5 separate regions of the Homo sapiens genome follow, and all the other regions are linked to region 1. Evidence: fine-mapped expression QTL. A gene starts in region 1. Each other region holds a variant in brackets. All regions are shown on one strand. Distances are from middle to middle.

Region 1 (6,369 bases):
CCAGGCTGGTCTAGAACTCCTGACCTCAGGTGATCCACCCACCTCGGCCTCCCAAAGTGCTGGGATTACAGACGTGAGCCACCATGCCTGGCCTCCTGTAAGCATTTAAACCTCTCCCGGCTGCCCTGTTTCTCTTCCTGCGTTCCCTTGAGGCTCTCCCAGGTCCACTCCAGGCATGGCCCTGGTGTGCCTTCAGCAGCAGAACCTGGGGGATCCAGAGAAGTCACATTCTTGGGCTCACCAGAGACCTGCCAAATCAGAATCTCTGGGGTGGGCCCAGCAAGTGAGGTTTAAACCAGCTTCCCCATGGGTGGAAAGCTTGCTAAAATGCAGACCCCTTTACAGCAGGTCTGAGCTCCTAATAAGTGCCCCGGTTTGGTGGGGGTCTGCACCCCTCACTCACCCTGACCCTTTGCCCTCTGACCCTGCTACTTCAAAGGTCCCACCAGGGTCCTCATCTTGTGGGTGTCCAGGCAACATCTCACCCTGCAGGTTACTCCCTTTCTGCAAATGTTCCCCTGGTCCCACCCTCTACAGCTGCTCCTCTTGGGTCCTTCCCAGTGATCCACTCCCTGCCCAAGAAGTGTTCAGAAAGGGGACCGGAAAAAGCCCCCAGACATGAATCGTGGGGAGGAGAGAGGGGCATGCACCCCTGCTCTCACCAACTAGGAGCCAACACTGCCCACTCCCAGAGACCAGCGCCTCCTCCCACAGGTGAGGGCTTCCCCTCCCACTCCCCGTCCTGATCACCAGCCCCGGAGGTCCAGCTGCAACTCGTTCACAAAGGTGGCCCCCAGGCATCCTCTCTCACCCCCAAGAACAGCATCTCCATCTTCCTCCTTACTGGGAGGGAGGTTATTCATTATTAGGGGCATCCAACATCCCTCACAATGAGCCTGTGGGGTGATCAGACAGCAATATTGCCACCCAGAGCACCCACACTGGAAATGGCTTAATCTCCACCCCAAGGGTACTGCCTAAGGCTCTTCAAATACCCGGAAACATGGTACCTGAGTTCATAGAGGAGCAAACATTTCATGTGGCTCTGGGGAAAACATCGAAGGGCATCAGCTTTATTCTCGTCTGCCTTAACTCACTGGGTTGAGCTATTGTGAGTCTGAAGAGAATCATCAAAGGCAGCACAGCACAGCAGTTAAGGTCCCTATTGAGTCAGGCTGCCCAGGTTGGGAGCCTGGCTGTGCCTCTGGCTAGTCGTGATGGTGGACAGATTGCTTGACTTCTCTGAACCTCAGGATTCTCATCTGTACAAGATGCCGGCAGGATCTTCCTCAAAGGGGTTCCCCCAAGGGTGGCAGGAGATAACAGATGCAAAGCATTTAGAGCAGTGCCTGGCACAGACTCATGCTGAAAAAATGCTGGCTGTGTTATTATGAAGACCCTTGAATTAAACTGTATAAAAATTAAACTATAAGTCTGACCTGATGAGCAGCCGACCAAGTGGTATCCCAAGTCTGTGCGGAAAGGCCCTGAGGTAGGCTCCATCTACCCCAGAAACCTCAGAAATGAAACTCATCCTTCTGAAATAATCAGGCTCTTGGACAGGCACCAAGCCTATGCACCTTCAAGACCGCAAAGGAAAAGCTGTACACCCAGTGAGATCAGGAAAGAGAAATAGACCTTCTGAGTCAACTTAGGGAAGATGGTACAAAAATGATGGCCTCCTTGAAAAATCTGGGAAGATGGTCACTGAAAGCATTTACGATTGGATTTTTTTTTTTTTGAGACGGAGTCTCGCTCTGTCGCCCAGGCTGGAGTGCAGTGGCGCAATCTCGACTCACTGCAAGCTCCGCCTCCTGGGTTCACATCATTCTCCGGCCTCAGCCTCCGAGTAGTCAGGCGCCCGCCACCGCGCCCGGCTAATTTTTTTTTTATTTTTAGTAGAGACAGGGTTTCACCATGGTCTCGATCTCCTGACCTCGTGATCTGCCTGCCTCGGCCTCCCAAAGTGCTGGGATTACAGGTGTGAGCCACTGCGCCTGGCCTACGATTGGATTTTATTTCCTGTTCTCATCTTTGAGAGTGTGTGTGTGATGGGAGGAGGCGATAGTAAAGGCAGGTGGGCCATGCCCTGGGGCAGAAGAACACTGGCTGGAGATGCTGTGCGCAGGCTGAGGACTGGGCAATCTGCCTGCTGCCCTGACAGCCCGGAGAGGGCAATCCCAACCTATATGGCAAGCTCCAAAAAGAAGGCAATTCTTACAAGGCTCTGAAAACCTAAAATTCTAAAGCTATTTTTAAAAACAAGATACAAAACACTACTAATACGTCATTTACGTTCACAAATGAACAAAAACACATTTTTAGTTTGAAAACAAACAGGCCCTAACTTTCAGCACAGACACAGCACTTAATTGAGTGCCAGGCACTGTTCTACGTCCTTCCCATCTATTAATTCATTTACACTCCATGCTCCAAGGTAGGAGCCATTACGCATGGTTTGCTGTGGGGCGGGAGGCAGAGTTGGAACCCTGGCCCTTCCAGGGTGGTTCCAGAGTTGGGGCTGTTAACTATGATGCTGTTTTACAGGAATCTGGGTGACTTCTGAGGGCCGCTTGGCTCTGGGACGGGTGGAGATGGTGCTGGAATCCAGGCACACAGGTAGGGTGGTAGGCGGCGTGCCTGGAAGGTGACCACCTCCTGCCACTTGGCACAAGAGTGTAGCCCTGTCATCTGGGTGTCCCCATGCCGCCAGATTACTCGGGTTGTCATAACTACCTATCTATAACCCAATAAACCCTCAGGGGCAAAGGGCACCACCAGATGCTAAGGAAATCTTGGTACGATCTAAACTGAGGGTGGGGGCTGGAGGTGTCTTACAAGAACTTGCATCTAATTTTTGCCAGCCAAAAGAATTAAAAACTAGATACTGAGAATGTTTCCTTTGGAAAGGCTGCTCCAGACTGTTAGGAATCTGGGCTTTCTGATTCAGTCTCTTGCCTTTCCAGCACCTAAAATCTTGCTGGAGGGACAGTGAGAGAAGAACCCACTGGTCTCTCAAGGTCTACCCGCTGGTGACATGAGTGACTGGGGGAGCTGACACAGCTGTGTCCCTGGGGAACCTCCCGGGTTGGCAATAAAATGGGGCAGTAATGCTCTGACAATCAGCTTGCAGTGGACTGCCTGCGGAACTGGAGATGAAAGCCTTCGTAAAGCCCCAAGCCCTTTTACTGTGTGTACGCGTACCCCTGGCGTCCTCTGCCCCATTTCCCTAAATACCAACCTCAGGTGCCCTCCGCCCACCTCCCGGAAGCTGCCAGGTCTGGGCAGAAAACCAAAACAACCCTTGGGCCTTTGTCTCCCCCCTAAAGGCCAGCTGGGGCAAGAGGGAGCGAGGGCCCGCCCAGGCACCGGCTGGGGAAAGGCTGTTTGATGTAGGGCCACCTCCCGGGGTGAGGATGCAAGGGGACCTCGGCAGGAACCAAGTGAGGAAACTGAGGCTGGGTGGTCTGGGCAGCGCCCCGCTCGGGCTCGGGTCCCCGCGGGGTCTGTGCTCCAGCCACGGGTCTGGCAGACCCTCACGCAGGAGTCCCAGGGGTCCCAGTGGCCGTCCCTCGGAGCCGGGCACCCGTTGTCCTTCGGATCCTAGGACGTGCCACCCCTCGAACCTCAGGACCCGCCGTCCCTCAGACCCCGGGCACTGACACCCCTCAGACCCCGAGCACCCCCGCCCCTCGGACCCAAGGACGTGCCGTCCCTCAGACCCCGCGCACTGACACCCCTCAGACCTCGGGCACTGCCGCCCCTCAGACCACGGACACAGCTGCCCCTCAGAACCCATGCACCCGGGCCCCTCAGACATAAGGACTCGCTGCCCTTCGAGCCGAGCACCCAGCGCCCAGTCAGGCCCCCAGCCGCCCTCAGCCTGGCCCGGCCGCGCCGCTCACCCTGCTGCCCGGAGGAATCTGCCATGGCTGGGAATCCCGGACCCGCAGCTGCGGCTACAGACACTTCCTAGAATCTGATGCAACCGCCGCCCCGGAAGTCGCGCCCCACGCCGGGCCCGTCTTCCGGGACACGCCCGGTCGCTAGGCAACTACCAGGGGCTCCGGATGTCGCCGGCCCGGAGCATGCTGGGAGCTGTAGTTCAACCCAATGGCGACCCGCGCTCCGGAGCATCGCGCGGCCAAGCGTTCAGTGGCCGTGCTGGGAGTAGTCAGCCCAGCCGCGGGGAGACAAGCACTAAAGACTGAGCGTCCTGTAATAGGTGTTTAAGTCATGATTGCGCTAAGCGCCGTGGGGACCAGGCCCAGCCTGGAGGTCAGAGGCGGCCTCGGGACAGGGTGTGCTGGCGAGACGGGATGGTTCCCAGGAGGCCGACCTGGAGCAGGGCCTGGGGATGGGCGGGAAGAGCGCTCCAGGCCTAGGGACCGCCCTGCCAATGACCCTGCGGAAAGCAAGCCACTATGAAGTGTTGCGTGAACAGGCTTCTCCATCTCCTTCTCAGACCCCATTCTGGAGCCATCCCCAACCCCCTTAGGGCTCCTGCCTTCTGTGTGCATGATGTCACCTCCCAAGGATATCCCACCCAAGGTTCGTGCACCCATCCAAAATGAGAGGAAATGCTATTTAAGAAACAGAATTTTAATATGTCAAGAAAAATTATTAGCCAGGATTAGTGGCTCATGCCTGTAATCCCAGCACCTTGAAAGGACAAGGCAGGAGGATCATTTGAGTCCAGGAGTTTGAAGCTGCAGTGAGCTACGACTGTGCCACTGCATTCCAGCCTAGGCGACAGAGTGAGACCCTTTCTCAAAAAATAAAAAGTAAAAAATCTTCTAGTTACTTTTTGGAACCTCATGTCTAATTTCATAATAAATTCTAAGGCCGGGCACGGTGGCTCACACCTGTAATCCCAGCACTTTGGGAGGCCGAGGTGGGCGGATTATGAGGGCAAGAGATCGAGACCATCCTGGCCAACATGGTGAAACCCTGTCTCTGCTAAAAATGCAAAAATTAGCTGGACATGGTGGCGCTTGCCTGTAGTCCCAGCTACTCAGGAGGCTGAGGCAGGAGAATCGCTTGAACCAGGGAGGTGGAGGTTGCAATGAGCCGAGATTGCGCCATTGCACTCCAGCCTGGCAACAGAGTGAGACTCCGTCTCAAATAAATAAATAAATAAATAAATAAATAAAATAATAAATAAATAAATTCTAAATTCTACTGGTGGCTGGAAAAAAAAAAGAAGAAAGAGTTTGTTTACATTTCTGCAAAGATCCTGTAGCATGTGCTGTAACTTGCCCAGGATGTGGGAGGCTCTGTGAGACCCCAACTAATCCCAAAGGAGGGACCAAGTCCAGGACTTAGGGGACGAAGTTCTGGCCAGGTCCTACCATGACTCTCACAGTGCCTGTTTCTCACTCATCACTCTAGGACCATGAGTCACCCAAGCCCAGCTCGGCCACATGCCTTCCTGGGAGAAGGAACCGGAGGCGCCCAGGAGAGTCAGAAGCCTCTTAGAGATAAACATTCGGCTAAGGCTTGCCCTGCCCTTCCTTTCTTGCACTAAGAAAGCCTCCTGACATCAGGTCAGGCAAGCCAGAGTTTGGCTGTAAGACCTGGGGTGAGTTTAACTTCTCTGAGCTTCCAGATGTCTTGTTTTTAAATCTGCAAAGTGGGGCCGGGCACTGTGGCTCACGCCTGTAATCCCAGCACTTTGGGAGACCAAGGCGGCCAGGTCATTTGAGGTCAGGAGTGCAAAACCAGCCTGGCCAACATAGTGAAACTTCATCTCTACTGGGAAAAAAAAAAAGGGTCTGCAGAGCGGAACTGGGAAATGATCACCTGCTCAGGTGGCCGAGCTGTGTCTAAGAGTGCTGCAGTGTCTAGCAGCAGTGGGTCCCGCCTCCCCAGTCCTGCTGCGTCCCAGCCCTACCACCAGGGCAAGGACACTCTCTGAACCTCAGCATCCCCCTGGTGTTGTAGTTCTTTGGGACAGCACATTGGGTTACAGGTTGTTATGGGTTGCATTGTGTCTCTCCCAAAAGATGTGGAAATCCTATAACCACCAGGACCTGTGAATGTGACCTTATTTGGAAATAGGGTCTTTGCAGATGATAAAGTCATAAGATGAGGTCATTAGGGGGGACGTTAATCCAGTATAACTGATATCCTTGTAAAAAGGGAAAATTTCAGCTGGGCATGGTGGCTCACACCTGTAATCCCAGCTCTCTGGGAGGCTGAAGAGGGAGGATGGCTTGAGCCCCAGAGTTTCAGGTTGCAGTGAGCTATGATTGTGCCACTGCATGCCAGCCTGGGTGCAGAGTGAGACCCTGTCTCTAAAATAAATAAATGAATAAATAAATACACATATATAAATTAATTTAAAAAAATTTTTTGAGACGGAGTTTC
Region 2 (6,369 bases), 46 kb before region 1:
GTAAAGGCGGGGCTGAGCGGTGGGGGTGGACCGCAGGTTGCTTCCCAAGACTGTGCTCACCTCTGCCTCTGACTGGGGACCTGACCCAGCTGGGAGGGTGAAAGGAGGCATGACAGGGAGGGCGACTGTGACCTCCATCACATGGGGAGGGAGCTTCGCTTGGAAACCCATGTGTCTGTGGCTGACTTCAGAGCGCAGCAGTGCAGACTTGCCCGGCATCCCACGGTTCTCCTAGTGGGCTCCTCACGCAGTCTCTAGCAGGCGCCCCCTCTGTGTCTCTGCTCTGCCCGAGTTTTCCCGTTCCCAGCCCACGCACAACGCCCAGGTAGAGAACAGGACATAAGAAGTTTTGGGTGTTACAGGGTAAATGGGATGCCAACCTATCTCAGAAAGACTCCAGAGTATCAGGTGATGTGACAGCATCTCCTAGACTACATCAACAGGACAGATGCTTGCTGCTCTCCAAGTGACAACTTTCTGCTCTGAAATCTGACCTTGGGTTTGCTGGAATCACCACACCCTTTAGTTTTCTTCTGGCCCCTCAGCTTGCTGCGCCCAACTGTGCTAGGCGGGCAGGTGCCCTGCCCCCCAGCCTGCTGGGACCCCCACCATCCCACCCCATCCTCCTGCCTGCCCTGCCTTTGGGCAGCACTGACCATGCACATGCTGCCATTCTCGTCTGTCCTTTTCCTGCTGTGTCCTCATAACTGAGACCCCTAGAGCTCCTTGCTGGGCACCCCACACCTTCATTCACTGCTAGATAAAATATTCACATATCCGGGCAGGCACGGTGGCTCATGACTGTAATCCCAGCACTTTTGGAGGCTGAGGCGGGTGGATCACAAGGTCAGGAGATCGAGACCATCCTGGCCAACATGGTGAAACCCCATCTCTACTAAAAATACAAAAACTATCTGGGTGTGGTGGCATGTGCCTGTAATCCCAGCTACTTGGGACGCTGAGGCAGAAGAATCGCTTGAACCAGGGAGTCGGAGGTTGCAGTGGGCCAAGATGACACCACTGCACTCCAGCCTAGCGACAGGGCAAGACTCCATCTCAAAAAAAAAAAAAAAAAATTGCATATCCTTGGGCTTCAAGGCCGCGCTCATAAGCACAGCCACTTTGGGCAGCTTCCGGAGTTTCAACCTCCCCAGGCAGAGACCTAGGGGAACAATGGCCTTTATATTTGTCTGCAGTATCATTCCTGGGAACAGGCCCTCCTCAGCCACCTGAGGAGCAGCTGACTGGGGCATGAGCTGAGGTAGGTGCCTGCCCTTCACTCTTTGAAAGCCACCCCTGGATAGCACCCTCATTAGAAGGAAGGCAAGCCAGCACCTGTGGTCACTGTCACGGGTGTCATGGGAGGCCACAAGGCCAGCACCCCAGCCCACCCGCCATGGGTGATCATCAGAGCAGGCACCAAGAAAGCCTCCCGGGCCACACTCCCTGGGGGAAAGGGACACACGCCGTACCCCTCAGGCCCACACCGACCTCTGGGTCTGGATTCTGAGGAGCTGAGGAAGAAGCCTCTGTGGCTTCTGTTAGCAGAGCTGGGGCAGAGGAGCAGACAATGACATCATCATCAGGGATTTACTGAAGAGAAATGTGGGCTACAAAGATAACGCAAAGGTGATGAGAATTCTTCCATGGAAGAATAGACAGATCAGGGCCCATCCATCCATGGAATATGATTTGGCCATTAAAAAGGCAGGAGGTCCTGACACAGGCTGCAACATGGATAGACCTGAGGACACCGTGATCAGCGAAATAAGCCAGACACAGGACAAACACTGTGTGACTCCACTCATGTAGGGTCCCTGGAGTAGTAAAATCCAAAGAGACAGAAGTAGAGGGTGAGCACCAGGGGCTGAGGGAGGGGATGTGGAGTTGCTGTTCCATGGGGACAGAGTTCCAGTTTGGGAAAAGGGAAGAGTTCTGGAGATGGACGGTGGCGGCTGCACAACACTGTAAATGTCCCTAATGGCACTGAGCTGTGTATTTTAACATAATGAAAACAAAACCGTGGCGATGGGGAAATGGCATCATCTCCCCAGTGCAGAGGGCCCTGGCCCAGCCCCTGGCTTTCTCACTTCAGTGCCTCTCTCCTGGTCAAACCCTGAACCCATTGCCCTCCTTGCCAGGCCTGTGCTCTCTAGCTGACTGGACCATGGGGGTATTTCCAGGGGAAACAGTTTCTTTTTCGTCTGTCTGTGGAGCATCTGGCCTGGGCCAAGCAGATCCCAGCTGATCTGAGGGCCACCCCTGAGCTTGTTATACACTCACTTTCTCTTTGGCCAGCCATGAGATGTTAACAGTGAATAACAAAACAGTCACTATTTGCTGCTGCTGGGGAGACAGGGTGATTGCACCAGAGCCACCTCTAACACGCTGCCCCGTCGGAAGGTCTGAGGCCCCTGGATCCCCAGGGTCTCTGGCTCACAAGGCACATATGGGATGATGTACAGGGTAGGGATCACCACCATCTTAACCTGGGGCCACATCACCCATCTACCTGCTCCAAGCCACAAAACAAAAGTGAAAAGCAAACAGAAAGCAAAACCGAACTACTTCCAATGCTGGCTGGCTGGTGCCACTCTCCAGGCCTGAGCAAGTCCTGTCCTGGTCAGTGCCACCGAGCGGGAGCTTGTGCCTGGCCAGTCCCCCTTTAGCGCCCTCCCGGGGCTGTGGCATGCCAGGGAAGCCAAGGCCACGTGCACAGTCTTGTATGACCCCAGGGAGCTGGGGCCCGGGCTCGGCCTTCGATGTCCCCCAGAAGGCAGGTGGAAATGCCCAGGCGACCTCCAGGAATGGTCTTCCCAAGCCCACGACCCCAGCGATGCCGCTAAGTTAGTGCTGCCAAGATTGCTGGAGAGCCCTGCGCTGGTCCTGAATAGGCTGGTCCAGGCTTGGTTCAGTTTGATTCCAGTGCTTTGAAATGCTGAGGGCATCAGGTGTTGGAAAGGGGCGATGGTGCTTATGTGGTCAGGGCAAGTGCGCCCACCGCTGCCTGTTAGGGGCTCAGTCAGGCCCAGGCCCCTCTCCAGAGCACTTGTGGCAGCCCAGCAGCCCAGCAGCCCGGCCAGCCTCTCCTCTCACCCAGTGTCCTGCACTCTCCTGCAGCCTGTGGAGCCCCGAGCTCCCGAAACTCTTTCCTGCCCTCCTGCCTCCTGCTCCACTGTCCCCTGCCCGAAACAGGCCCAGATTCGGCTCCTCCGCCTCTCGGCCCCTCCACCCACCCAGGCTTCCTGATCCTTCCTCAAGGTGCAGCTTCTCCTAGAGGCTTGCTGGGTCTCTGTCTGCTCTGTCTTCAGCATGCCCTGCCTGGATGCTGCCCCACTGTGACCCTCCATAATGGGCTCTGCACAGATGGGGACCAGGTGGATCCTAGGTCAGACTTCCCACCACACAGAGGCCCCCTGGGGAGGGAGAATTAGCACAGCAGGTGATGGAGTAGCACTCGAGGTCAGTGTGACCCGGCCAGGGCTCTCCTTTCCTCTTTTGGAGGATCATGGTGGTAAATGAGGCAATGTGCAGAAAGCAGTGGGCAGGGCCCAGCACATCCTAAGTCCTCAGTGTGTGTTCCCAGCTGTGCTGTTACTCACCAATTCAGAACCACTCACAGGAAGAAGCAAAGGCCTGCCTGATGCTGCTTTTTGCTGTGTTTAACACTTTCTTAAAACTGGCAGTCAAAACGAATGCTCAGATTCAGCACTTTCTAAGTCTTAAACCACACACATCTCAGAAATTTCAAAAGATGAAGGAATGGCCAGGCGCGGTGGCTCACGCCTGTACTCCCAGCACTTTGGGAGGCCGAGGCGGGTGGATCACGAGGTCAGGAGATCGAGACCATCCTGGCCAACACGGTGAAACCCCATCTCTGCTAAAAAAAAAAAAAATACAAAAAATTAGCCGGGCGCGGTGGC[A/G]GGCGCCTGTAGTCCCAGCTACTCAGGAGGCTGAGGCAGAAGAATGGCGTGAACCCGGGAGGCGGAGCTTGCAGTGAGCCGAGATCGCGCCACTGCACTCCAGCCTGGGAGACAGAGTGAGACTCCATCTCAAACAAACAAACAAACAAAAAGATGAAGGAATGGCTGCTTATGGACAGTGAGGGGCCACTGTGTGAACCCCAAGTTCAAGCATTCATCTGGCATGCCTGAGCAGAAAAGGGAACCCTGGAAGCTGCAGCTCGGCTCCACTCGGCAGCAGGAACGAGCCACACCTCAGCGCACCCAGCCTACCAGGTCACCAGGAACAAAAATAAGCCCCAGTGTGAGCCAAATGGCAGGTGGTGACTGGGCTGGTCAGAGGACCCACCATTCTGCCTCGGCTCAGAGAAGGAGAGGCAAATCAACCCTGGCCCATCATATCACATCCTCGGTCCCCACTGCCCACTCAGCTGCACTCACTCGAGGATTCTGCCCTGCAGGGACATGTGGGGCTGTGGTGACTGGAGCGTGTGGTACTAATGCACCTGGTGGGTCCAGGCCCGGGATGCCGTTCAACACCCTGTGGTGCACGGGGCAGCCTTCCCAGAGGATGATCCGGCCTGAACGCCATAGTGCCTCGGGGGAGACGCCCGGTCCGGGGAGCCCAGTGAGGGGAGTGGCTCCCACACTCTTTCCAGCAACTGGTCCTCACCTTTTTGCTCTCGGGCAATCTTCCGCACTCCTTCTCGGAATTCTGATAACACCTGAAGGTAGGGCATGACTGTGGCCTCGAGCTGCGGAAAGAACAGTTTTGGTTCACTGAGAGCTGCTCACACTCCCATATTCATAACAGAATAATAGCTCAGTGGCCGCGACACAGGGCAGGGACTGGCATGGGCAGTGCTGCTGTGCACACTACAGCTGTGACCGGCATCCCAGAGCCTGGACGCTCTCGTCCCTGACACACAGTCCCTGCTAGGTGTGCGAGTCACACAGACTCTCAGGCCAGAGAGCATGAAGTGAGCTTCCTTTCTACTGCAGCAGGTGGGTCTGCCGCCGCTCTGCCCAGCTGCTGACAGGCCCTGCTTTCCTCAGGTCAGACACGCTGCTGTGAAACAGCTTGTCTTTATGGTTTCAGAGGGGCCAGCTCTGGGAGGGACTATTTCCTAAGGAGCCCAAGGACATCACTCCCCAGGCTGGGGCCTTACCTATGCTGAGGCTGGCGGCTCCCGGGCCGTGCTTTCGTCTGATCTGTGGTCACACATACACTTGTTTAAGATGAATGATCTCCATTAAGCACCTACTATCTACATGCACATTAGCAGCTACACGTAGATTCACCACCCACAGTAACACTGGGGAGGTGGCCACAGGATAGAAAAACCTTTCTACTATATTTCCCTTTTTTTTTTTTTTTTTTTTTTTTAAGACGGAATCTTGCTCTGTTGCCAGGCTGGAGTGCAATGGTGTGATCTCGGCTCACTGCAACCTCAGCCTCCCAGGTTCAAGCGATTCACCTGCCTCAGCCTCCCGAGTAGCTGGGATTACAGGCAAGCGCCACCACGCCTGGCTAATTTTTGTATTTTCAGTAGAGATGAGGTTTCACCTTGTTGGCCAGGATGGTCTCAATCTCCTAACCTTGTGATCTGCCCGCCTTGGCCTCCCAAAGCATTTCCCCTTTTTTTTTTTGAGATGGAGTTTTGCTCTCATTGCCCAGACTGGCATGCAATGGCGATCTCGGCTCACCGCAACCTCCACCTTCCAGGTTCAAGCGATTCTCCTGCCTCAGCCTCCCGCGTAGCTGGGATTACAGGCATGCGCCACTACGCCCAGCTAATTTTGTATTTTTAGTAGAGACAGGGTTTCTCCATGTTGGTCAGGCTGGTCTCGAACTCCCGACCTCAGGTGATTCACCCACCTCAGCCTCCCAAAGTGCTGGGATTACAGGCGTGAGCCACCATGCTGTGCTAGCATTTCTCTTTTTCTAATAGGACAGAAAAGGTTTTAGGCTTTTGAGCAAGGTTGCTCCCTGCCCCTTAGCTGATTCAGCAGCTCAGTAACCAAAATAAAAACATTAGCAAGTGCTGGCTGGGCGCGGTGACTCACAACTGTAATCCCAGCACTTTGGGAGGGCGAAGTGGGTGGATCATGAGGTCAGGAGTTCAAGACTAGCCTGGCCAACATAGTGAAACCCCCGTCTCTACTAAAATACAAAAAAAAATTAGCCGGGCATGGTGGTGCATGCCTGTAGTCCCAGCTACTCAGGAGGCTGAGGCAGGAGAATCACTTGAACTCGGGAGGCAGAGGGTGCAGTGACCGGAGATTGCGCTACTGCACTCCAGCTGTGGAAAGAAGAGTTTTTGTTCGCTGAGAGCTGCTCACACTCCTATATCCATAACTGAATAATAGCTCAGCGGCCACGACACAGGGCAGGGACTGGCATGGG
Region 3 (6,369 bases), 130 kb after region 1:
GGCAGCAGAAGAAGAGTCTGTCCCAGCTCTCAGAGAAAGACTGGTTTGCTTTCTGCCTCTGTATTTATTCTTTCTAGGCCCTGGTTGATTGGATGGTGCTTGCCAACACCGAGGGCTGATCTTCCCCCGAGTCCACTCAGGCTCACACATGAGTGAGTGAAGTATTATCAACTCTAAAATAAGGATGATATCTAATAACAGGATGGAAACACGCTTGTATGATGCCAGCACAAAAGATTTGTCAGGGCAGACGTTCATTCCTGCTATTCTCAAGTTTTGTGATTAAGCAAGTGCATTTAGATGCTGCTTAGCTGAGAATGTTTCCGTCTCCTCTGGAAACACCCTCACAGATACAACTAAACTACTGTTTTACCAGGTTTCTGGGTACCTCTCAGCCCAGTCAAGTTGATACCTGAAATTAGGTCCACACAGGTCTACCTCTTGCCACTTGGCACCCACACTCATCTCTTTAGATCATACTTAACTTCCAAATAAAGACTTAACAAGGTCGTAGTTCCGCCCAACACGGTGCAACTGTCACAGACAGGCACCACAGACAGACAGACAGGCACCAATCCTTTCCCCAGGACTCAGCTTTCAGGATTTTGGCATTCAGATTTTAATCTGACGTGAGGGATTTTAGGTTTAGGGATTTCAGTATTGTGGATTATGCAGTTCAGGATTGTGTCTTTGAGGATTATGATTGACACCAAATACAACTATACCTCAAAAAAGGCATATGAATGGAATGCTGAAAAAAGGATCCAGGCCCCCTCAAAAAAGGCATATGAATGGAATGGCGAAAAAAGGATCCAGGCCCGAGCGCGGCTCATGCTCAAATCCTGTCTAATGCACAAACCACATTTGCTTGCTTTCGAATCGTTGCTTATTACTTATATGTGGGGGGGGAAAAGAAAGCAGCAGGCATTGAAAACACTCCAGAGGTTCCAGAGGTGGCTGTTTCCAGAGACACTTCTGGTCCTGACATGCTGGGGTCTCGTCACCAGGGCTGTGCTGGGGGCCCCAAGCTCTCTGAAGGTGTGCTTTCTGGGTCATGAGGTGGGGGCCCCACAGATATTGGTCATCTGTGGAGGGTAGCAGAGCAGCCCCAGGGCGCCATCGATGCTGGCAGGGGAGGACTGCCCGAGGGCCTCTACAGGCCAGGCCAGGGTGCAGCCACTTCAAAATCCCTGAAAGCAAATGTGGAACCTTGAGTGAGTGTCCGGTTGGAAAATGACCACAGCCTTGTCCTGAGCTGGGTGAGGGTGGGTCTGTCACCGCAGGGCTGAGAGGCACCTCTGTGTGCTCCTTGCCAGAGGAGCTTGGCAGCAAGTGTGGGGTGGCCCTCCTAGACAGCAGCAGCTCTGCCTTGGGGTCTGGCCCATTCCCAGACACAAGTGCATGCAGACAAAGGCCAGGGGTCAGGTCCTGCCCAGTCATTGGTCTCCTGAGCTGTTGGGTGCCGGGTGTGTCCTGTGATAGGACAGCAGCAGAGCCCAGCTGCTCCACCTCGTACTCTGGCCAAAGATGAAGGGGCACACAGTGGCTCTGCAGGGCTGTGGAGCAGTGCTACAAGCCTTGGCTATGGCGGGGCAGGGGACAGTCACCCTCTGTCATAGTCCTTTCTGTGTTGCTATTACAGAATACCTTAGGCTGGGTAATTTATAGAGAAAAGAGGTTGGCTCATGGTTCTGGTGGCTGGGATGATCAAGATTGGGCAACTGTGTCTGGTGAGGGCCTCAGCAGCTTCCACTCATGGTGCAAAATGGAAAGGGGCAGGCATGGGCAAGGAGGCCACGTGGTGAGAGAAAGCAAGAGTGCCAGACTCCCTCTTTTTTTTTTTTTACTTTTAAATTATTATTTTTAGAAATAGGGTCTCACTCTGTTGCCCAGGCGGGAGTACAGTGGCACTGTCATAGCTCACTGCAGCTTTGACTTCCTGGGCTCAAGTGGTCCTCCTGCCTCAACCTCCTCAGTCACTGGGACCACAGGTGTGGCCACCACACCTGGCTAATTTAAAAAAAGTGTTTTTTTTTTTGAGATGGAGTCTTGCTGTGTTGCTTACACTGGTCTGGTCTGGAACTCCTGGCCTCAAGTGATCCTCCCACCTCAGCCTCCTGAAATCCTGGGATTACAACTAGACTCTTTAAGAACCTACTCTCCAGGGAATGAATCATTTCCTGAAGAACTCACTCTCTCCCTTGGGAGGGGTTAATCCATTCATGAGGGGTCTGCCCCCATATCCCAAACGCTTTCCACTAGGCCCTTCTCCTATCACTGCCACACTGGGGACCCAATTTCAAGACGAGTTTTGGTGGAGACAGACCACATCCAAACCACCCTCTCTGACCCTCTCCTGGTGCCAAGCTCTCTGGCCAGGGAGTAAAGGGGCCCCCACTCTTGCACTTGCCAAGGGTGGAGACAAGGGTAGGCTGGCAAGAGCAGTTTAGCGAGGACAGAGTGAGGGAAGGGGTAATTATTTCCTACCTTGGAAACTCTGTGTCCCACCCCAGCTGCACCA[C/T]GGCCGGGCCAGGCCGGGCCTGCAGCTTCTGGTCCTTGCCTTGACCTCCTCAGGATGGGAGGTGGACTCCAGAGAAGGCCTTGCCCAGTGCCCATCCCCGTCCTTCTTCCTTCCTAGTGGACACCACGTCCTCTTCAAAGTCCACACCCTCTGTGGGACAGAATTGTAACTCCACCTCCCAACAACTCACCATGGTTCTCTTCATTTCTATTCAAGGACCTATTTTGTGGAAAATCTTAGCCCATTCAGAACCTATAAGCATTTGGGATTACTTTTCCAATTCTGGCCTCTTGCAACCCAAACAAGGTCAAGAACGGCTCCAACCAATAGAACTTTCTGAAGCGATGACAGTGTCCCTCAAGCTGCCTGGCTCGCTGTAGGAGGAACCAGCTGCACACAGCTCTTTAGCTCTTAAAATGGGGCTGGTGCCACCAAGGAACCGAGTTTTAATTAATGTTGTCAGTTTAAGTAGCCCTGTGTGGCCAGTGGCTACACTATGGACAGTGCAGATCTAGACTCTTAAAAGTGGTTTATCTGGCCAGGTACGGTGGCTCATGCCTGTTATCCCAGCACTTTGGGAGGCCGAGGTGGGTGAATTGCTTGAGGCCGGGAGTTTGAGACCAGCCTGGTCAACATGGTGAAACCCTGTCTCTATTAAAAATACAAAAATTAGTTGGGCAAGGTGGTGCATGCTTGTAATCCCAGCTACTCAGGAGGCTGAGGCTTGAGAATTGCTTGAACCTGGGAGGCAGAGGTTGCAGTGAGCCAAGATTGCACCACTGCACTCCAGCCTGGGCGACAGAGGAAGACTCCATCTCAGAAAAAAAAAAAAAGTGGTTTATCTGGGGTTGGGATTGGTGGCTCACACCTGTAGTCCCTACAACTAGAGACCAACCTGGGCAACATAGTGAGACCTCATCTGTACAATAAAATAAAAAAAAATTAGCTGGATGTACTGGTGCATGCCTCTAGTCCCAGCTACTTTGGAGGCAGAGACAGGAGGATTGCTTTAGTCCAGGAATTTGAGGCTGCAGTAAGCTATGATTGCACCAGTGCACTCCAGCCTGGGTGACAGAGGGAGACCTATTTCTTAGATTTAAAATAAAGTGGTTGATCTGCTTTTTTTTGAGTGACTTAAACAACAAGTATTTGTCTTTCACAATTCTGGAGGCTGGAAAGTCCAAGATTAAGGTGTGTACTCGTCTGTTCTCACATTGCTATAAAGAACTACCTGAGACTGGGTAATTTATAAAAGAAAAGAGGTTTGATTGACTCACCGTTCCGCAGGCTGTACAGGAAGCATGGCTGGGAGGCCTCAGGAAACTTACAATCGTGGCGGAAGGCGAAGGGGAAGGAGGCAAGTCTTACATGGCTGGAGCAGGAGGAAGAGAGGCCAGAGGGAGGAGCTACACACTTTTAAACAACCAGGTCTCATGAGTACTCATCACTATCACGAGAACAGCAAGCGGGAAGTCCACCCCCGCGGTCCAATCACCTCCCCCCAGCCTCCTCCTCCTCCAACATTGGGGATTACAGTTCCACATAAGATTTGGGCAGGGCCACAAATCCAAACCATGTCAAGGTACAAGCAGGTTTGGTGTCTGATGAGAGCGTGGTTGCTGGTCTGCAGATGGTCACCATTTTGCTGTATCCTCACCTGGCAGAAGCAGAGAGAAAGCTGGCTCTCTGGTGTCCCTTCTCATAAGGACACTTATGGGGGAGGACCCCTCCCTCACGGCTTCACCTAGATGTAATTCACTCCCATAGGCCTCGCTTCCAAATAGCATCACGTTCCGGGGGAGGCTTCCAACCTACAAATGTTGCAGGGACACACATTCTACCCATAGCAGTAATGATGCTGTATCAAATGGGGAGCTGATGGTAAACTAGCCCAAAGTGATTCTCCAGTCTCTCCCTTCCCCTACCATAGTGACAGAGAAGGCCTCATGGTCTAAATAACATGGCTAAAAGTTGGTTGGTAGAACCTTCCTCAACATGGCCTCTGAGTGACTAGCAGAGTCTTCCAAAAACCTCAATAGACATGCAGTGTGAGTTAGAAATAAACTTTTGGGTTCAATCACTGAGATTTGGGGATAGTCGTTCTCTTTTCCTTTCTTTCATTTTTTTTTAATACTTCCCAACTGTATTTATTGTGAAAGAGAGGGTTCTTATTTTTTGGGAAACACATTCTGATTTTATTTTATTTTATTTTTATTTTACTTTGAGTTCTGGGATACACGTGCTGAACGTGCAGGTTTGTTATATATGTATACAGTGCCATGGTGGTTTGCTGCACCTATCAACCCGTCATCTAGGCTTTAAGCCCCTGCATGCATTAGGTATTTGTCCTAATGCTCTCCCCGCCCCCTTTCCCTTTTCCCCCAAACCCCTTTCCTTGTCTTTTTAAAACAAGTTTCCATTTTTTCTCTTAGATGTAAGGAGAACACGTGCAGGTTTGTTACAAGGGAATACTGTGTGGTGCTGAGGTTTTGGTAAGTGAACTTGACAGGAGCCTCTGGCAGGTTCCTGCCCCAAGAAATCAGGGCTTCCGAGACACCACCAGCAGGACACCTGGCAGAGCCTCCAGGACCCCTGGCAGAACCCCTGACAGTTACATCTCTTTCCCGAGAGAGGGCACCTCTGTGTGCTCCTTGCCAGAGGAGCTTGGCAGCAAGTGTGGGGTGGCCCTCTTGACAGCAGCAGCTCTGGCTTGGGGTCTGGCCCATTCCCAGACACAAGTGCATGCAGACAAAGGCCAGGGGTCAGGTGGATGACTGATCCCGTCACCCAGGTAGTGAACATAGCACCCAACAGGAACTTTTTCAGCCCTTGCCCCTCCCACCCTCCCTCCTTTTGGAGTCACCGGTGTCTGTTGTTCCCATATTTATGTCCATGTGAACCCAAGATTTAGCTCCCATGGATAAGTGAGAACGTGTGATATTTGGCTTTCTGTTTCCGTATTAGTTAGCTTAGGATAATGGCCTCCAGCTGCATCCATGTTGCTGCAACAGACATGATTTCATTTTTTGTGGCTGCGTAGTATTCCGTGGTGTATGTGTACCATGTTTCCTTTGCATCCACCCTGATGGGCACCTGGGTTGCTTCCACGTCTTTGCTCTCGTGAACAGTTGCTGTGACGGGTATGCAGGTGCAGGTGTGTTTTTGGCAGAATGTTTATTTTTCTTTGGATATGTGCCCAGTGATGAGTGGGATTGCTGGGTTGAATGGTCATTCTGTTTTAAGTTCTTAGAGAAATCTCCAAACTGCTTTCCACAGTGGCTGAACGAACTTACACTCCCACCAATAGTGCATAACATAAGCATTCCCTTTTCTCTGCAGCCTTGCCAGCATCTGTGGTTTTTTTGACTTTTTAATAATAGTTTATCTGCTTTTCTGCTGAGACCTCTCTCCCTTTAGACATGCATGGGTGATTAGCAGGTGGAAAGCGTCTGGGGTAAAAAGAAATTGCCCATTAAGATGTTGAGACAACCCTAACTGATCTACAGGTTCAATGCAATTCCTATCAAAGTCCAAATGATTTTTTTTTTTTTTTGCGGAAATAGAAAAGCCTATCCTAGAATTTGTATGGAATCTCATGGGACCTAAATAGCCAAAACAATCTTGAAAAAGGACAAAGCTGGAGGACTCACAGGCCCTGATTTCAAAAGCTTGTGCAAAGCTACAGTCGTCAACACACTGGGACTGGCATAAAGACAGACACCGAGACCAACCACGTAGAATAGGAGCCCAGAAAGAAACCTTTGCATACGCGGGCAAATGATTTTTAATAAGGGTGCCGGGACCATTCAATGTGGAAATAACAGTCTTTTCAACAAACAGTGCTGGAA
Region 4 (6,369 bases), 32 kb before region 1:
AAGAAAACTAGGAAAAAAATTGCCATTATCTTTTAACCTAGGAATTACTACTGTTACCATTTTGGTATACTGATTCCCAGATTAAAAAACAAACACACAAAAACACAAAAAACCTCTGCAAGCAAAATCCAGATCTATCCACCAACACGGAAGGCCGCTGTCCTGGCTTCCTTCTACCTCCGCACTGTTCTGCCACTGACAATTCCGCAAAAGCACAATGTGATATGGCCCATGACATTCGCTTTTAGATGCTCTTTGATAGAAAATATACATTCACGTTTTCAACTTTTCATTATTATGAACTTACTCATGAAAGTTTATATCTGATTTTTTAAAAATACGCTTTGAAAAAATTGATAACAGAGAACACAGGACCCTCCCCACAAACACCCTATCCTTCAGCAAACATCACACTGCAACTGCCCTCATAGGGTTAATGAGAATTCCAAGGCAGGCTATAGGCAGAATGATGAGGCCGGTCACTGGCCAGGTGCAGTGCACGTCCATCCGCTTCCCTGCAGCTCTAACTGAGAGTCACATAGCACGCTGACCACCTGCTCCACCACTGTTCCTAGCGATAGAATCTCTAACCCTGGACCTTTTTACCAAGAACTGCTTAAGGTATTTTTTGGATCCTGAATTCCAGCAGGACAGCTGTTGCCAACTGGTCTGAAGACCTGCACCAAGGAACTGACTCGTCGCAGAAATGTGGTTTACCTCCCTGTCCCATGACTTCGCCCCTCACTTCCCCAGCAACCGGCAATCCCCATCACCTGTCCAGAGCAATTAAAAACCCCTCCCCAAATCTCAGGGAGGCGGATCTGAGGTTTCCTCCCATCTCCATTTGTCCACCATACAATTACTACGCTTCTTCTACGGCAACCCCTGGTATCCCGGTATACTGACTCGCTGTGCATTGGGCAACAGACCTATTATGGTTACAACACAATGTCTTTCAAGTTTTCCTTCTTGGTTTCATTTCCTGTCTCTCTCCCCAGAGGCAGAGTGAGTGTTTCTAGCTTTGACCCTACAAGCATGTTCATACCAGCACAACAGGGTCCTGTTCTCTCCCACTGGGGGAGCTTCCTCCCTGCACTAGGCCTTCCTGCCACGTGCCTTCCCGAGTGGTCTGCATGGCCCATCTGCCTCTGGTGGGTCATCTTACTTGGCGGAGTGAGGAGCTGTCATCATCTAGGACCACTTGGGCCCCAGCATCACCCCTCCCCTTTTCCTCTACCATTAGAGTCCCCATGGCGAGGAGCACATGACTGCACAGAGCTAAGGCTACACTCCTTATGACTCCCCATGGTGGGGGGAGGTTGCGGGGGTGGTCATGTGCCCACGTCTGATCACTGACTGTGGAGGGGTGGAAATCCATGTCCCTCTTTGGTCCTGCATATTGGCTGTTAGATTCTACTCCTGTTTCCTGGAACTTAAACCAATGCTGAAGTCATTCTGGAAGAAAATGGGCCCAAGAATAAATGGTATTTAAGAAAAAGACCCTAGATGGGGCCAGATAGCAAAATTCATCATAAAGTGGTGAGTCAGTGTGCTCTAGCTGCCTCCAGAACATTCCTTCACCACGTGACCTGAGGGCACTGCTCCACTTACCACTCCCACCTTTCCCATGTGCTGCCAGTTCCCTCCCGGCATCTAAGTGTCAAATGCAGTGCGAGTTGTTCACGGCTTCCTCTAAGGACTTTAAGAAATGCTCTACTATATCCATAGTTACATTCCATTTTTGTCTTGTTATTCAAACATACATACATACATACATACATTCAAACACACACACAGGATCTTGCTGTCAGCCAGGCTGGAGTGCAACGGTGTAATCACAGCTCACTACAGCCTCGACCTCCCTGGCTCAAGCAACCCTCTTACCTCAGCCTTCTGAGTAACTGGGACTACAGGTGCATGCTACCACACTCAGCTAATTTTTAAAATTTTTGTAGAGATGCGGTCTCACTACATTGCCCACGATGGTCTTGAATTCCTGGCCTCAAGCGATCCTCCTGCCTCGGCCTCCCAAAGTGCTGAATTATAGGCATGAGCTATAATTCAGCCCTAATATGTTTTTCAATCTTCTACTTTTATTAATCAAACTTGCTAAGGGTTCTTCTATATTATTTTTTGAGAAGAATCAGCTTTTGGCTTTTACAATTGTTTCTGTTTCTTTAATCTCTGATTTTACTTTATTTCCTCCTATTTCTTTCTACTTCTTCTTGTTCCTTTCCCAGCTTTTTGACTGACTGCTTAGCTCACTTATTTCCTTTTTTTTTGTTTGAGATGGACTCTTGCTCTGTCACCCAGGTTGGAGTGCAGTGGCACGCTCTCAGCTCACTGCAACCTCCGCCTCCAGGGTTCAAGCGATTCTTCTGCCTCAGCCTCCCGAGTAGCTGGGACTACAGGCATGCGCCACCACACCCGGCTAATTTTTGTATTTTTAGTAGAGATGGGGTTTCACCACATTGGCCAGGCTGGTCTCGAACTCCTGACCTCGTGATCCGCCTGCCTTGGCCTCCCAAAGTGCTGGGATTACAGGCGTGAGCCACTGCACCCGGCACCTCACTTATTTTCCATCTTTGTTTTTTAATAACTACATTTAAAAACATCAGTTTCCTCTAATTGGTGCTTTAGGGGCATTCTCCAGATTTGGTGTGTGGCACCTTTGCTGCTGTTCTGCTTAAACACCCCTGATTTCCCACTGTGGTTTTCTTTCCTAGGAGTTATCCAGGAGCATGATTTCAACCCCCCAGACAAGTTTGTACATTTTAGACGTCCGTCCTGTCAGTGTTGGTATCTTTTTTATTTTAAAAAAAAAATTTTTTTAATGTCTTTGAGACAGAGTCTTGCTCTGTTGCCCAGGCTGGAGTGCAATGGCACAATCAGGGCTCACTGCAGCCTTGACTTCTTGGGCTGAAGTGATCCTCCTGCATCAGCCTCTTAAGTAGCTGGGACTATAGGCACGTGCCACCACACCCAGCTCATTTTTAAATTTTTTGTAGAAAGGGGGTCTCCCTATGTTGCCCAGGTTGGTCTGGAACTCCTGGGCTCAAGCGATCCTCCTGCCTCGGCCTCCCAAAGTGCTGGGATTACAGGTGTGGGTCGCCATGTCTGGCCAAGTGTTGTTATCTAATACAATCGCTCCATGGTGACAGAATGAGGGCTCCTTGACAGAATGAGGGTTCCTTGAAAACGGTTCTTTGAGATTTGTGGAAATCTTTCTGTGGCCTGGCATATGTTTCTGTGTTCTTGGAAGGAAAGGATGTTCTTTAATTCCTGAGTGCAAAGTTCCCAGCTCTCAAACCAAGCCTGTTAACTGTATTTCAAACCTTTCATATCCGTATTAATTCTTGGCCTACTTGATCTGTCA[A/G]CTCCTGGGAAGTGCATGAAACGTGGGCATGTCCACTCTGGTTCTAGGGTAGTGAAGCCTTCTGGTCCAGAGGCCCAGGCTGCATCCTCTCAGAGCTGAGGCGCTTCATCATCACAAACCCGCCCCTCTACTCCCACAAACCCGGAGCCTGAAATGCCATGGGTCTGATATTTATGTGTCAACCTGGCTATCTCTATCTTTCTTCAGTCTGTGTTGTCTGGTTTTATTTTATTATATATTTTTTTGAGACAGAGTCTCATTCTGTCACCCAGGCTGGAGTGCAGTGGCACAATCTTGGCTCACTATAACCTCTGCCTCCTGGGTTCAAGTGATTCTCATGCCTCAGCCTCCTGAGTAGCTGGGATTACAGGCAAGCACCACCACACCTGGCTAATTTGTGTATTTTTAGTAGAGATGGGGTTTCGCCATGTTGGCCAGGCTGGTCTCGAACTCCCAACCTCAGGTGATCCACCCACCTCGGCCTCCAAAAGTGCTGGGATTATAGGCGTGAGCCACCGCACCTTTATTTTAGGTTCTGATATTTCTTTAGAATAGAGCCTAAAATTAGATAAAAGTATGAACATTTTTATGGCCAAATTGTCTTCCAGAAACACTAGGACAGGCGGGGTGGGGGTGCAGAACGTGCCCTGGCACATTGCGGGAATCCCCACTCTGCAGGGAGGCTTCCAACCTTGCCTCTTGTGGATGTGTCCCCAGATTCACTTAAGGGATAAACATGAAGAAAACACCAACGAAAGGGTTCCCAATATAATTCTGCCTGGTCTAGAAAAAGTCTGATATCTGTGTTTGAAGCATTTGGATCCAGATGGGCGCACAGGCTGTTGTCAAATATGCATCACTCGGCACACATCCCAGCACCCCACAATCCCCCTAAACCTCACATGCTCAGCCAGCAAACACCAGCCCTGTGAATCCAGGCCCCAGGGGCCACTATGTTTCTCAAGACAGCACTGCGTTTACTGTCTTTTGTTTCTTAAAAAATAACACACCATAAAAAAATGACATCTTGTCTTTTACAGCAACATGGATGGAACTGGAAGACATTCTGTTAAGTGAAATAAACCAGGCAGAGAAAGACAAATATCACATGTCCTCTCTCTTATGTGGGAGCTAAAAAACGGTGGACCTCAAGGAGGTGCAGCATAGAACAGTGGTCACCAGAAGCTGAGAAGAGTCAGGTCAGGGGCAGTGAGTGGAGAGAGGTTGGTTTCTAGGCACAAACACACAGACAGAAAGAATAGGTTCTTGTGGTCACTAGCACAGTAGGGTGACTATAGTTACCAAAACATTTGTTGTATATTTCAACATAGCCAGAAGATCTGGAACATTCCCAATGCAAAGAAAAGGTAAACGTCTAAGGTGACGAGCATCCTAACTACCCCGATCATCACACACGGTGTGCATGTATTAAGACATCACATGTTCCCCATAAATTGCATAATTATTATATATCCATTAAAAAAACACATGTCATGGTCTTAGAGCTGCACAATGTTGAGTGCAGAAAACTCCTAAAATTCCTTCAGGTGAAAAAGCACTGTTCCCAAGAGTCTGAGGGGTGGGCTCAGCGCAGCCCCCGTGGCCTGCAAAGTCAACACAACCCAGGCTGGGCCAGGAGGGAGAGCCCACATGCTCTCAGGCATGCCCTCCTCACCTTCCCCTTCTTGAAGGGCTTTCTGATCTCCAACGGCCTCAGGCACCAGCTTCCCATAGGAGTGCTTCTCGCTAGAAGCAAACTTCGCTGTATCAAAGTAGACAGACCCATTGGAGACATAGCTGGAAAACAGAAAAGGAATTGGGTGGGTGCATCTAACAGACCCGAAAGTGTGTCAGCAGGATGACAGTAACAAAATAAAGCAGGGCTATAAAAGTGCGAAATCTGTGGCCTATCTACTCTCTGTGGTGGCCACTGAAAACCGTATCAGCTGTTTGGACTGAGTGGGACACCAGGGCCCATCCCGCTGCGGAGGCAGCCTGCCTGCCCTGGGCAGCTCGTCCCTCTGCCTGGCGTCCTGTGACCCATGCAGCTCCCACCCTGCCTTGCTCAGGGCTGCTGCCGTCCTCATTCTTGTGTGGCCTCACCTTTCCCTGAATGTCCACACTCTACCCATTAGCTTAGCTGAGGCTCTTGGCCTCCAAGAAGCACTCTAGATTACTCCAGTCTGGAATGACCTGTCCTCTCTGAGCTTCGGCTTGCCCATGCCTCTCGGCTTGGCACAGGCTCTTATGCTGCCCCACAGTAGTTTGTGTGAAGTGGGGAGAGAAGCAGCGCTACTGCTTAAGAGTCTGCCCCGTTCCTGGCACTGTCACAACCTCTTGTTTCTCTTTCATCCAGCCTGTGTGGTTCCTGTGGGAGGGAAGCAATCTGAGGCTGGACACAGTGGGTCTCTGGGAGCAGGCGCACGGTACAGTGCTGAGCACTACTGTGGGCGGCAAGCCACCCAGGTGCCGAGGCAAGAGACCGAGGGCACGAGCTGTTCCAGTATAATAAAATATAAAATAAGAATAGTTATACCAGATATAGATCTTAGATATGATTATATATGAATATCATTAATCATTAGTTTGTAGCAATTACTCTTTATTCCAATATTATAATAATCCTCGCTCTATAATCATAATCTAGGAAAAACCAGGCCATACAGAGATAGCAGCTGAGGGGACATAGTGAGGAGTGACCAGAAGACAAGAGTGTGAACCTCCTGTTATGCCCGGACACGGCCACCAGAAGGGTTCCTTGGTCTAGTGGTAACGCCAGCGTCTGGGAGGATGCCCGTTGCCAAGCGGACTGTGGTCTAGCGGTAGCGTAAGTGTCAAGGAAAAACACCCGCTACTTAGCAGACCGGGAAAGGGAGTCTCCCTTGCCCCGCGGGAGTCTGGAGAAGACTCTGCTCCTCCACCTCTTGTGGAGGGCCTGACATGAGTCAGGCTCGCCCGCAGTTATCCGGAGGCCTAACCGTCTCCCTGTGATG
Region 5 (6,369 bases), 120 kb before region 1:
GTGGCGTGATCTTGGCTCACTGCAACCTCCGCCTCCCAGGCTCAAGCAATCCTCTCGCCTCAGCCTCCTGAGTAGCTGGGACCACAGGTGTGTACCTCCATACCCAGCTAATTTTTTGTATTTTTGTAGAGACAGGGTTTCACCGTGTTGCCCATGCTGGTCCTGAACTCCTGAGCTCAAGCAATCCACCCATGTCAGCCTCCCAAAGTGCTGAGATTACAGACATGAGCCACTGAGCCTGGCCTCTTTTTGTTTTATTATTATTATAAATTTTTGAGACAGGGTCTTGCTCTGTCACCCAGACTGGAGTGCAGTGGTGCAATAATGGCTCACTGCAGCCTTGACCTCCTGAGGTTGTGATCCTCCCACCTCAGCCTTCTGAGTAGCTGGGACTACAAGGCACATGCCACCATGCCTGGCTACTTTGTATATTTTTTGTAGAGATGGGGTCTCACTGTGTTTCCCAAGCTGGTCTTGAACTCCTGGGCTCAGGCAATCCGCCTGCCTCATCCTCCCAAAGTATTGGAATTACAGGTGTGAGCCACTGTGCCTGGCCTCATCCTTTTTAAAAAAGCATTTACATTTCCTTTAACAATTGATTTTTGTTTGTTTGTTTTTGAGACGGAGTCCCACTCTGTCATCCAGGCTAGAGTGCAGTGGCACGTTCTTGGCTCTCTGCAACCTCCGCCTCCTGGGTTCAAGTGATTCTCCTGCCTCAGCCCCCTGAGTAGCTGGGACTACAGGCATGTGGCACCACGCCCGGCTAATTTTTTTGTATTTTTAGTAAAGATGGGGTTTCACCATGTTGTCCAGGCTGGTCTTGAACTCCTGCCCTCAGGTGATCCACTTGCCTTGGCCTCCCAAAGTGGTGGGATTACAGGAGTGAGCCACAGCACCCAACCTCCTTTAATAATTAAATATAGGATTGCCCTGTGATCCAACAATTCCACTTCTCATTCACATGCTCACAAGAACTAAAAGTTAGAGTCTCTCCTAGAGATCCATGCACACCCATATTCCCAGCAGCATGCCAAAAGGTAGAAGCCACCAAGTATCCACTGACAATGGGCACACACGATGTGGTCCACACACACACTGAATAGTCACTGCCTTAAAATGGAAGGGAAATCTGGTCGGGCACGTGGCTCACACCTGTAATCCCAGCACTTTGGGAGGCCAAGGCAGGTGGATCACCTGAAAAATTGGCCAGGCGTGGTGATGCCTGCCTGTAATCCCAGCTACTTGGAAGGCTGAGGCAGGAGAATCGCTTGAACCCAGGAGGCGGAGGTTGCGGTGAGCCAAGATTGCACCATTGCACACCAGCCTGGGCAACAAGAGTGAAACTCCATCTCAAAAAAAAAAAAAAAAAAAAGGAAGGGAATTCTAACACAAGCTACAGCACGGATGGACTCTGAGGACACTATGCTGAGTGAAATAAGCCAGACACAAAAAGACAAGTACTGAATGATTCCACATGTACCAGGTCCCAAGAGTCGTCAGATTCAGAGACAGAAGGTAGGAGGGCAGGTGCCAGGAGCTGGAGAGGACAATGGGGAGTTTAATAGGGACACAGTTTCCATTTGGGGAGATGAGAAATCATGGAGGCAGATGCTGATGGCGGCTGCATGACAGTGTGAATATGCTTAGTGTGAATATACTCAGTGTGAATACGCTCAGTGTGAATATGCTGAGTATGCTCGGTGTGAATATGCTCAGTGTGAATATGCTCAGTGTGAATATGCTCGGTGTGAATACGCTCGGTGTGAATACGCTCGGTGTGAATATGCTGTGTGAAAATGCTCGGTGTGAATACGCTTGGTGTGAATACGCTTGTAATATGCTCGGTGTGAATATGCTTTGTGTGAATATGCTTTGTGTGAAAATGCTTAGTGTGAATACGCTCAGTGTGAATACGCTCGGTGTGAATATGCTCGGTGTGAATATGCTCGGTGTGGTGTGAATATGCTTGTAATATGCTCGGTGTGAATATGCTTTGTGTGAATATGCTTTGTGTGAAAATGCTTAGTGTGAATACGCTTAGTGTGAATACGCTCGGTGTGAATATGCTCGGTGTGAATATGCTCGGTGTGAATACGCTTAGTGTGAATACGCTCGGTGTGAATATGCTCGGTGTGAATATGCTCGGTGTGGTGTGAATATGCTTGTAATATGCTCGGTGTGAATATGCTCAGTGTGAAAATGCTTAGTGTGAATACGCTTAGTGTGAATATGCTTGGTGTGAATATGCTCGGTGTGAATATGCTTGGTGTGAATATGCTTGTAATATGCTCGGTGTGAATATGCTTTGTGTGAATATGCTGTGAATATGCTCAGTGTGAAAATGCTTAGTGTGAATACGCTTAGTGTGAATACGCTTAGTGTGAATATGCTTAGTGTGAATACGCTTAGTGTGAATATGCTCGGTGTGAATATGCTTAGTGTGAATACGCTGTGAATACGCTTAGTGTGAATATGCTCGGTGTGAATATGCTCGGTGTGAATATGCTCGGTGTGGTGTGAATATGCTTGTAATATGCTCGGTGTAAATATGCTCAGTGTGAAAATGCTTAGTGTGAATACGCTTAGTGTGAATATGCTTGGTGTGAATATGCTCGGTGTGAATATGCTTGGTGTGAATATGCTTGTAATATGCTCGGTGTGAATATGCTTTGTGTGAATATGCTTTGTGTGAATATGCTCAGTGTGAAAATGCTTAGTGTGAATACGCTTAGTGTGAATATGCTCGGTGTGAATATGCTCGGTGTGAATATGCTTAGTGTGAATACGCTGTGAATACGCTTAGTGTGAATATGCTGTGTGAATATGCTTAGTGTAACTATGCTTAGTGGCACTGAACTGTGCACTTTAAAAAATGGTTAAGAATGTAACTTGTGATGTACCCTTTACCAGTTTTAAAAATGCATTTACATATGAATATCCATGCAGGCGGGGGTATGAGCTTGTGTCTCTTCCTCTGTCTGGGCCATCTTCCAGGAACCCCCCACCCCAGCCCTCATTATCTGGAATCCTCCATGTCTCAGCCACCCCTTGTGATGGTTGGGCTTGGGCTGGGTCCCTGTTGCTGTCATCTTACATGGCACTGCCTTCCTGCACACCAGACATGGCACTGCTGGGCTAGCAAGGCCCTCAGATGTGTGGTAACTGCCAAAATGGCCTGCCAGTGGGGCTGTTCCTATT[C/T]ACCCTTTCCCCCAAGGGCTGCAATGCCAATCTCCCCATGGCTAGGCCAATGGTGGGCACTCTGTACTTAAAAAAAAAAGTCAATCTGGGCAATAGCTCACGCCTGTAATCCAACACTTTGGGAGGTCAAGGTGAGTGGATCACTTGGGTTCAGGAGTTTGAGACCAGCCTGGCCCACATGGTGAAACCCTGTCTCTACTAAGAATAGAAAAAATTACCCTAGTGCAGTGGCATGCACCTGTAATCCCAGCTACTCGGGAGGCTGGGGCAGAAGAATTGCTTCACCCTGGGAGGTAGAGGTTGCAGTGAGCTGAGAAAGTGTCACTGCACTCCAGCCTGGGCCATAGAGTGAGACCCTGTCTCAGGAAAAACCAAACAACCAAACAAACGAACAAAACAACAACAACAACAACAACAAAACCCCACAATCTGGTGGTCAAAAACTGAGGTCTTCACACACATTTCTCTATCCCTGGGGTGGGGGCAGCCATCTCTCTGGGTGTCTGTGGCCTTTGGCGTGGCTGTCTTTTCCCCTCTTCATGTGCTTTGGTCTGTTTGAAAGACCCCTTTCATGGACTGAATGGTGGCCCCCAATAAGACATATCCATGTTCTACTCCCTGAAACCCACGAATGTTACCTTTGATGGCAAATGGGTGAACATGACCTTAGTGGCTAGGGTGTGATATAGGAAAGGCCCCTGAGAGCAGGAGCTTCCCCTGGACTACCCAGGTGGGCCTCACAAGGGAGAACTATGGAGAAGCAGGCATAGGGGTAGGAGGCCACGTGAGACAGAGGCAGAAATCGGAAGGAAGTGGCTGCAAGCCAAGGAATGCCTGGAGCCCCCAGATGACGAGGAAGGGTCCCCACATAAGGTCTGGTGTTCTGGTCCTTGGGGAGGGCAGCCCCTGCTGAAAAGGGGCAGGTTGAGACCCAGGGACCACTTCAGGCCCTCGCTGGCGGCCCCCAGGCTGGGGGCAGCAGACTCTAGCAACTCTGGCCAGTGCCTGCACCTGAGGCCCCATCTCCAGGCGTTCCCTCTTGTCCTCCCAGCCCTGCACCCGCCTTGCTCAGTGAGGCACTGTCCTCCCTCCTCGGACTGGCTTCCAGCCAGGCAGGCACTGGTGAGGGCCGGTGTGGGCAGCCCTGCCATGCCCAGGGTCTGGGTTCTGAGGAGGTGAAGCTTCTCCCCATGTCCCAGATACAGAAACTGAGACCTAGGGAGATTTGGAAACTTGGTGGACACCACAGACTTCTTGAGGAGCTCGACAAGGGTGATCTGTGTGGGTCCGCCCTGAGTGGGGTCCTGGACACAGCTGTAGCTGCCCCGTTTCTCCTGGGCTGGGCTGGGCTGGGCCAGGCTGTTGGGTTGTCATGGTAAGTAACATCCGGCTGCCACCCTCAGAGAGCCATGAGTCAGCATGGCCAGGATGGGCTAGTGATTGGCACCTTGGGGACAGCCTAGCAGGCGGGGCCTCCCTCAGGCACACCAAGGTGACCTGGCCTCGGCAAGAGGCGTCCAGGCCTCACCCTGCAAGAGCTGGGCCCTGGCTTCTGTCCTGAGACTCGGGTCTGCATCTCTTAAATGGGGAATGTCCCAGGCGCATGAGGTGCCTGGAAACCCACACCAAATTCAGCGCATCAGAAGCTCAGCCAGGGCCAGCCCGAGGAGGCGTCCTTCCAGGAGGCCCTGCTGTTGGGGGCCACTGCTTGCCAGTGTCTCCTGGTGGGTGGGGTCCAAACAGCTGGGCCTGGGGTCCCTTGGGCCCCCCACTCCACATGGGGATGCTCCCTGGGGCGGGCTGGGGAGGAGGTGCCTGCTCCAGCAGAAGGAACCTGGGAAGGCACCTGTTCTGAGGGTTTTGGGGCAGAGGCCGAAGTCCATGCCAGGCTGTGGCCAGGCTGGCCTGGCTGGCAGGGAACCACAGGCTTCTGCACACAGCAACCCCTTCTGCAGGCCCAGGGCTCCCTCAGGGCACTGCAGCTGGAGTTGGCTGAGTCTGGGACGGTCACTTCTCCCACCGCTGCCCCTGGCTGTTCCTCTGTTGCTCACCAGTTGCCCAGCCCTGAGCCCTGACTCAGAGCCAGGCAAGCCAAGGACCCAGCAGGGGCAGGTCAGAGGTCAGTAATATCAAGGTGTGCCTGGATGAGCCAGGCAGAGGCCAGGGGCTCCACCTACCCACCTGGCTGGCTGGTGGAGCCAGCTGGCTGCCCCCTACCCACCCCACCCCTGCCTCCCACCTCAGGGGCAAGCTTGGATCCTGGCAGCTCATGCTGACTCAGCCTGCCCAGCGATGGGGCTGGGGGCAGCCTAGGGCATTTTGAGAGTGGGACAAGATGGGTGGGGTGGCAGGAAGCCCTGGACCTGGGACTTGGGGAAGGGGGCTCTGGCCCCATGGGTGGCCCTTGGGCCTGGGGAGGTTTGCTGGGCAGCAGGACAGGAGCAGAGTGGGATGTCGGCTTGGTCCCAGCTCCACATAAACGGGAGTCATGAGCCTAGAGAGCAGACTGGCCAGGTAGGCTGACCTGGGGTACACACCACCCGCGGACCCACACGCCAGGCAGCTGTGGACAAGGGTCCCAGGTGACCCTGCTGGGGAAAGCAGCAGCCATCAGGTTCTAGGGAGCCATAGCTCCTGACTCAAGGGAAAAAACAGAATTTTAAGTGGAATCACCCTGTTTTGGGGACTTCTGAAAACTGAGCTTCAGGCCAGGCACGGTGGCTCACACGTGTAATCCCAGCACTTTGGGAGGCCAAGGTGGGTAGTTCACCTGAGGTCAGGAGTTCGAGACCAGCCTGGCCAACATGGTGAAACCCCATCTCTACTAAAAATACAAAAATTAGCCAGGTGCAGTGGTGCATGCCTGTCATCCCAACTACTTGGGAGACTGGGCAGGAGAATCGCTTGAACCTGGGAGGTGGAGATTGCAGTGAGCCGAGATGGTGTCACTGCACTCCAGGCTGGGCAATGGAGCGAGTCTCCGTCTCAAAAAAAAAAACAACGCTGAGCTTCATTGAGGACTAACTTATATACAACCAAATATACCCATTTTTGATGTAACTCAATGAATTCTGACAGACGTATACACCTGTGTAACCACTTCCATCCCTCTAAAGCGTTCCTTGGTCAGTCCCCCCACCCCAGATCCCTCCCAGGCAGTCACCGGCACTA

Alleles and levels. Alleles are on the strand shown, and positions count from the first base shown. SD is a standard deviation of normalised expression in the study named. Not every link is listed here.
For the expression in naive CD8 T cells of the gene that starts at base 3,986 in region 1, A is the high allele of the variant in region 4 and G is the other (large effect, 1.0 SD a copy in Schmiedel 2018).

What was found. PIP is the estimated chance that this variant, and not a neighbour inherited with it, causes the effect.
Region 2: its variant is the best candidate, but not a certain one, in a credible set for the expression of CARS1 in lung (TOPMed, PIP 0.52).
Region 3: its variant is the best candidate, but not a certain one, in a credible set for the expression of CARS1 in whole blood (TOPMed, PIP 0.84).
Region 4: its variant is the best candidate, but not a certain one, in a credible set for the expression of CARS1 in naive CD8 T cells (Schmiedel 2018, PIP 0.64).
Region 5: its variant is the best candidate, but not a certain one, in a credible set for the expression of CARS1 in nasal epithelium (TOPMed, PIP 0.70).

What each region holds. Positions count from the first base shown.
Region 1 is chr11:3,053,438-3,059,806 of GRCh38, forward strand. CARS1 (cysteinyl-tRNA synthetase 1) reads right to left here and starts at 3,986. Exons shown (of 23, transcript NM_001014437.3): 1 at 3,906-3,986. The coding sequence starts at 3,930. LOC124902615 (a long non-coding RNA gene) reads left to right here and starts at 5,187. Exons shown (of 2, transcript XR_007062555.1): 1 at 5,187-5,581. RefSeq lists an enhancer at 3,640-4,172.
Region 2 is chr11:3,007,560-3,013,928 of GRCh38, forward strand. CARS1 (cysteinyl-tRNA synthetase 1) reads right to left here. Exons shown (of 23, transcript NM_001014437.3): 18 at 4,636-4,717. Among named protein-coding and RNA genes, the nearest start is that of NAP1L4, 18 kb to the left of the region's middle. The variant A/G (reference allele first, on the strand shown) is at 3,924.
Region 3 is chr11:3,181,184-3,187,552 of GRCh38, forward strand. No RefSeq gene overlaps it. Among named protein-coding and RNA genes, the nearest start is that of OSBPL5, 19 kb to the left of the region's middle. RefSeq lists an enhancer at 1,290-1,790. The variant C/T (reference allele first, on the strand shown) is at 2,522.
Region 4 is chr11:3,021,625-3,027,993 of GRCh38, forward strand. CARS1 (cysteinyl-tRNA synthetase 1) reads right to left here. Exons shown (of 23, transcript NM_001014437.3): 10 at 5,052-5,173. Among named protein-coding and RNA genes, the nearest start is that of CARS1-AS1, 4.6 kb to the right of the region's middle. The variant A/G (reference allele first, on the strand shown) is at 3,377.
Region 5 is chr11:2,936,113-2,942,481 of GRCh38, forward strand. No RefSeq gene overlaps it. Among named protein-coding and RNA genes, the nearest start is that of PHLDA2, 9.9 kb to the left of the region's middle. RefSeq lists a silencer at 3,997-4,173. The variant C/T (reference allele first, on the strand shown) is at 3,199.